2 linked regions of the Homo sapiens genome follow. The protein of the gene in region 2 purifies or fractionates together with the protein of the main gene of each other region. This does not show direct contact. Each region holds a gene or a part of one and is shown on either strand. Other genes may lie near its edges. The genes, in order: LEMD3 and IREB2.

Evidence for each region.
Region 1: the proteins of IREB2 (region 2) and LEMD3 fractionate together in Homo sapiens (co-fractionation; one large-scale study listed by BioGRID). This does not show direct contact.

Annotation. Positions count from the first base shown.
Region 1 is NC_000012.12:65,245,412-65,248,879, forward strand, and holds the end of LEMD3 (inner nuclear membrane protein Man1), read left to right. Parts: intron 1-257; coding exon 258-363; intron 364-449; coding exon 450-528; intron 529-750; coding exon 751-914; 3' UTR 915-2,944; downstream 2,945-3,468.
Region 2 is NC_000015.10:78,441,041-78,444,871, reverse strand, and holds part of IREB2 (iron-responsive element-binding protein 2), read right to left. Parts: intron 1-3,831. UniProt on the Homo sapiens protein: RNA-binding protein that binds to iron-responsive elements (IRES), which are stem-loop structures found in the 5'-UTR of ferritin, and delta aminolevulinic acid synthase mRNAs, and in the 3'-UTR of transferrin receptor mRNA.

The sequences.
Region 1 (3,468 bases), on a different chromosome or scaffold from region 2:
TACAGGCATGAGCCACCGCGCCTGGCCAGCGCTCTGCACTCTTTTACTGGAAAGTGGGAGGAGGGCTGAGACTTCTGAATTGTAATTTTTAAATCTACCTCCTGTTAGTCAACAAGCATTTACTTAATACCAATTAAAATCGTATGTGGTTTTAAAACTATACCAATTCTAGTAATATATATATGTTGTAAGAGACAGTGAAGAATTTTTACCGAGTAGGAATATGGTTGTTGATTTTTGTTTTCATTAACTTTTAGGGAAATAGGGGATCAGTGGCATTTGGCAATTCAAGAAGCAATTTTAGAAAAATGCAGTGATAATGATGGCATTGTTCACATTGCAGTAGACAAAAATTCACGTGAGGTAAAGTAACTTTTGGTATTGAATTTCATGTTTTGGATTTGTTGCTATTAAACTAAGACTATTTTCTTTCTTTTTTAATATCACAGGGTTGTGTATATGTTAAATGTCTGTCTCCAGAATATGCTGGAAAGGCTTTTAAAGCATTGCATGGCTCTTGGTTTGATGGTAAGAAATTTGAGTACTACAAACATTTTGAAAAGATAGTTATAGTTTAATTTTAAACTATACCAGATTTCAAATAAAAGAATTTAGGTTAGCATTTTTTTGAGTAATAATTTTAGATGACTTTATTTATGTTTTGTGCTCATATGTCTTTTACCACAGTTAATTTTCTGCAAATATTAAACAGTTTTACTGATCTAAAATATTATTTTTATCTTACAACAGGGAAATTGGTTACAGTAAAATATTTACGACTAGATAGATACCACCATCGCTTTCCCCAGGCTCTCACTTCCAACACTCCATTGAAGCCATCAAATAAACATATGAACTCCATGTCTCATCTTCGTCTTCGGACTGGCCTAACCAATTCTCAAGGAAGTTCCTGAAAAGATTTTCTTCCATTTCTAAGACTGTTATTTACAATAGGAAAATTCCTGTTTGGCTTTTTGTCTTCCTTTTTAAATGCTTTTTGTATGTAATATTTTTATTGATGAATACATCTCTGAACGTTCCAGAAGTCTTAAGGTTCCAAAGGGATTTAGCAGTGAGGCAGCAATGCTGAGTAGGTAGGATAATTATTTCATTCAGTTTTTGGAGCTCAGTTAAGCCAATACATTTAAAGTTTTGCATGAGGAACACTGACTTTATTAAGCATTTTCAGATGTGGTGGTTGTATTTTTGCCCCAAGAAGTGTTTGGATAACCACACAAAAGCATGATGAAAAGGCTTCTTGTAGTCCCATAATTTCTTGTGAACTAATGTTGTGAATTTTTGTATACAGTCACCTGCATAGTTCCTACAGGCTAATGTGGTAAAACTGTTGATTTCCCAATTTAACCTTAGGTTTCTGTTGCTTATAAGCGATTCATTTGCTACGGCTGGAATATGGGAAAATTAATTTGGGCTTAGTGGTTACAAATATGTGTAAGTGGATGTATATGTACTTAAACTGGCTTTGTATATATGTATAAATGCTGGTGGTGGTGAAAGTAGTCTTGTTTTATGAGGATGTCTGCATTAAAGCAGTAAAATAAGCTTTCCATTTTATTCATAATCTAATGTGTGTGTATATATGTATGTGTGTATGTGTGTGTATATATAGATGTATATATATACACACACAGAGATATATACATATGGCTGTACTTTTGCATAGATCAAACAGCCAAACACCTGGAAGTATTAGATACAAGTTTAAAATATCTTTTATAGGTTTTATATAAAAATGTCTGAGTATGATTTTGTGTGAAAGTTCTGATACCAGTTGTAATAGAGTCAAATTTATGTGAGCAATAAAGAAGAAATTGGCAGATATTGGAAAAATATTTTGTGAAAAGCTGTATTTATTATAAATACTAGGGCCATGACATAGTACCATTGGGGTTAAGTCATTTTCCCAATCTATTTATAATTTAATGATATGTTAGTGCCTCTGTTATATGTCAAGTTTAAAGCAGGGCACATTGTTGCAGCAAAATGTGTATTTGACAAATTATACTTGCAATTTTGGGTCATGAAAGTTTGCAATATAGTAAATGCACGATTGACTGTTGCTTTGTGCCTCAGTATTTAATTTGTTTCAGTAAACTTACTTTATTACTGTTTATGATTTCAGATAAAAATAGTTGCTGAGTAAATTTTACTTGTAATCTACAATTGGCTTTTTAAAAATAACCTGTTGATATATAATTGTCAGTCCAAATGAATATGTGAAACAGCTGGAATTGTACAAATTTTGGTTGTATTTAAAGCTCAGTTTCCTTTTTGTTTTATTGTATGCGTTGGGTTTGCAGCATGAACTTGCACAGATAATGCACGTTTTCTGGTTAAGTAAACATGATGCACACTATTCTGTAACAGAAAGCCCTATTGTGCCTTACCTGTGTGCTTTTGTGGGCACCTTGTTTATGAAGAATAAAAAATGATTTGTTATCTGAAGAGAATAAATTTTAAATTCTCAGTTTATGTCTCAGATGCTAACGTGTGAAAATATAAATATATATAATATATAAAGTAACCAGTCTTCCTGTATTTTATGTGCATCATAGTGATTTATCTGAGCTTAGTGACCCCCATCTTGTAACCTGTTGCAAGAGTGAATGTAAAAAATAGTTGTGGCATTTTAAAAGGTCGCCTTTGATGCAGATGCATCTTTTTCTTGCTTCTAAAACATATTTCATGTAAACATTGTACATTTATTATTGTAATATATACTATTATGCAGCTTATTTTACCTGAAACTGTTAAGCCGACCAAGATCCCTCCCTGCAAGACAGATGGGAATGTGTATAATAACTAGGTATTTGAGAAGTTCTGAAGTTTGATGTAATCTGTTACTTGTCCTGTTAAAAAAAGGAAAAAATTCTAATTAAAAATTTATTAGTTTTTTTTTATGTGTCTTGGCTTTTTAAAAACATTTTAAGTGCCCTGTGTCTGTATTTATTTTTTTACCAGTGAAAATAGGTGTCTTTAGTTTAAATGTTTGACAGCCTGAATATTTGTGCTTATAAAGATGAATGAAGACCATAAAGTTAATTTTAACTATCCTTCCCCTCAGCATTTTATTTTTCCTTATGAAAATGTCTTCATCCAACTTTCAAGTATTTGAACCAAAATGGGGCAAGAATGTCAATCAGCTACATCACAAAGCATTAGTTCTGCTAGATACTTTTTCACAGCAAGACTTTCTTAAAAAGGAAGCATTTCTTTTTCTTTTAACATTCTGACTTGAATTCTATTGCATTATAAACTATTAACAGTTCATAGGCTAGTTACTTTACATAGCATTGGTTTAGACTTTTTGATATGTTAAGTAAAAAGAAGACTAGTCAGTCATGTGGTACACTTATTGATTACTAACAAATGCCAAGTACTGTTATGTGTTAGGGATACAAAGATGAAAAACACATGACCGAATCCTCAAGATGGTCACAGTCTAGA
Region 2 (3,831 bases):
CCCTTTCTACCTGAACTCAAGCTCCCTGACTCAGAAACCAAGTAGATTCAGATAGCAAGGGATACCTGTATTCAATGACATGGAAAGATGTTCATGATATATTAAGTGAAAAAAAGGGTTACAAAACAACATATACTTTATTTTTATTAAAAGTAGCATATTTACATATATTTTTGTATACACATAAAAATGAGACTTTCTGTACCATCTGCAATGTTCTTGTCTTTTTGTGATTCTTCTAAATGATAAAAACTCTCCTAAAAAATTAAATACAGGATTTTCTTCCAAAGGCTGCAAGGTAGGATTTGGACACTAAGTCCCGGCTCTACTGGAGGACTAAGCAGTACTGTGGTTAAAAAGGCAAGCAGACAGGAAGGACAAAAGAAAGGGTGAATAAGATGACCTGAGATAAAGGGTGCCTGGGGGCTTTACACCACCAGAGGCCCTGTTGCCCAGTAACAGGTACTCTCTCAAAACTACCTTTCACTCCAGCCAGGCCAGTCTCTCCACCATCTTCCCCTTCATTCAACATAGTCATTCATGTTTCCATTATGCTGTTCATTCTAATTCTCTGATGTTAACTGTCCTCCATCATACATGGAGACACCACTGATTTCTCCACTCCTTAAAAATAGCAATAGTTTCAAATTCAGAGATCTACTTAAGAGAGTCACCCAAATCAGCTACTTGAGAGGGTGAGGTGGGAGGATCTCCTGAGCTCAGGAGTTCAAGGCTCCAGTGAGCTATCATCATGTCAGAGCACTCCAGCCAGGTTGACAGTAAAACTCCATCTTTATAATTTTTTTTTTTAAAGAGTTACTCAAAATCTACATTTTGAGACTACCTAGATTTTGACATGTTTCTAGTCAGCACATTGGGAGTGCCAGACAGCCAGCTCCAGAATATTAAAGAGATTCCCCACAACTGGCTGCGTGCAGTGGTTCACGCCTATAATCCCAGCACTTTGGGAGGCCAAGGCAGGAGGACTGCTTGAGGTCAGGAGTTTGAGACCAGCCTTGTTAATATGGCGAAACTCCATCTCTACTAAAAATAAAAAATCAGCCGGATGTGGTGGCACACACCTGTAGTCCCAGCTACTTGGGAGGCTGAGGCACGAGAATCGTTTGAACCCTGGAGATGGAGGTGGCAATGAACCAAGATCATGCCACTGCACTCCAGCCTAGGTAACAGAGCGAGCCTCTGTCTCAAAAAAACAAAACAAAATAAAACAAAAAACAAAAAAAACCCCACAAAAAATAAAAAAACAAAGGAGATTCCCCACAAGCAAAATCATACAAGATCAAAATGTAATCAATGTCTAAGATGTGCCCACTTCCATAGAGATACCCTGAGTATAAATTTGGGAAGCAAAAGGATAAAATGGCAGTAAAAAAGCAGAAATCAAATAATCTGTGTTGAACTCTATCTAAAGTCAGAATAAGAGAAGGCATCAGGTTGGTAACGCAGATAGATTAGGCTGGTTCACTCACCACCCACTCCCAACCACTTCTCCCTTTCCTTTCTCTATTGTAAAAGATGTAAAGGTAAAATACAGTACCCCATCTTATCTATGGTTTGGCTTTCTGTGGTTTCAGTTACCTGCAGAACAGCACAATAAGATACTTTGAAAGAGAAAGACCATATTCACATAACTTTTATTACAGTACATTGTTATAACTGTTCTATTTTATTATTAGTTATTATTAATCTCTACTGTGCCTCATTTATAAATTAAGTTTTATCATAGCTATGTATGTATAGAAAAAAATATATACCAAACAGTACATACACGGTTTGGTAGTACCCATAGTCTCCGGTGTCTACTGAGGGTCTTGGAACATATCCCCCATGAGTAAGAGAAGACCTTGATTATTCCATCTTTCAGCCTTCTTGAAGCTAAGAGTGGCCACTGATACTTTGGCCAAAGAGGCAAAAGCCCCTGGAGAGGGCTTTTATCATGGTTATAAAAACTGGTAATTCTGGAATTATGTTAAGTACACATGTACTCTGTACAGTTATGTACAAATTCCCATGACAGCTTATTTCCCAGGGAAAATTTAACTTGGACATAATGCCTGGAGGTGCAACCAAAAGAATAAAAACAGAACGGGAAGAAAGGACGAGCCTAGATCCTTGCGGAGATTGGTGCTGCACAGCCCCAGTCTGCCAATCTCCACACTTCGTTATGTTAGAAAAATAAACTCGTATTTCTTAAAGTCATTGGACAGCAAGTTTTCAGTTCTTTGCAGCTGCAGGCATCCCTGACATAGTCAGCATGGAGCTTAGAACAGTGTTTCTCAACTATCTTTACTCTGTAACATTTATGAGGGATAGAATCCATTCCCTTCATTAATCGTTACTCATTACAACAGTCATTCTCAACCTAGCAGGCATCAAAATGTGGAATGGAGGTGGAGAAGACTGGCTCTGTACCTTGGTGACTACCAAAGCAATGTCTTCTTGTAAGCATATGTCTAGGAGGCAATTCAATCTGATCCTTTCAAAAATGCAATAAGGATTTTTTGTTCTAAGGTTAAACAACCAAATACTTCCTACCTAACTTGTTCCTTTCTTTCAAAGTCAATTCTTCAAATTTTATTCCTTATTAGGAAATTACTTAAGTAATTATTACTTAATAACCTCTCATAATAAGCACTCTATTAAAAAAGCAGGAGGGGCTGGGCGCAGTGGCTCACTCCTGTAATCCCAGCACTTTGAGAGGCTGAGGTGGGTGGATCACTTGAGGTCAGGAGTTTGAGATCACCCTGACCAACATGGTAAAACCACCATCTCTACAACTAGCTGGGTGTGGTGATGCACGCCTATAGTACCAGCTACTTGGGAGGTTAAGGCACGAGAATCGCTTGAACTCAGGAGGCAGAGGCAGCAGTGAGCTGAGATCACACCATTGCACTCCAGCCTGGGTGACAGAGCAAGATCCTGTCTCAAAAAAATAAGTAAAATAAAATAAAATAAAATAAAATAAAAACCAGGGTACTGACCCCACATAAAAACCAACTTTCTGTTTTGAAAGTATTTATAGTCACAGGTATTCTATTATTACATTTATCATGGTTATAAAAACTGGTAATTCTGGAATTATGTTAAGTACACATGTACTCTGTACAGTTATGTACAAATTCCCATGACAACTTATTTCCCAGGGAAAATTTAACTTTCAGATTATCAATCATTCCCTTTCAATGCATTTTACAGTTGTTTTTGACAGTTTCCTACTGATTCCTTAAATTTGAGAAATTTAGGTCATCTTCCTTCAAGTAAGCACATTTCTACAGATTATACACAGAAAGTATTTATACTCAATTTTCAAAACATCTTATGTGCTCCTTTAATTTATTAAACTATGAAATTTGGGTTAAAAGACTTCCAAGCCAGTATCACTAGATTATTTTGGAGAAGTAAATGGGAAATAAAATGACTATTCTTGTAAACGATCAATCTAGCTGTTTCTTTTCAAAATTAATGCAAACTCACCATCAGTGAAGGGATAAAATTAATGTGAAAGACATACATTAAGAAAATGACCAACTTCCTTTAACAAACGTATCAACACAAATCACTGCAGCTAAACATGCAAGGTAAAGGATATTGCTCTCATTTTGGCAAACTGTTTATTTTTAAATGACAGCCTAATTCTAAAATGGGGATTCTTTAAGATACTCCAAAATAGCTGTATTTCACAATACACAAAAAATATTGCACATAGCAGTCAAGAATATTTAAATTCCTCAAAATCTACAGAAAAATCACAAGAACAATCGTCTTAATTAAATAATGCAAGAAAAAACAAGATTAAAGCTCCTTCCAAAA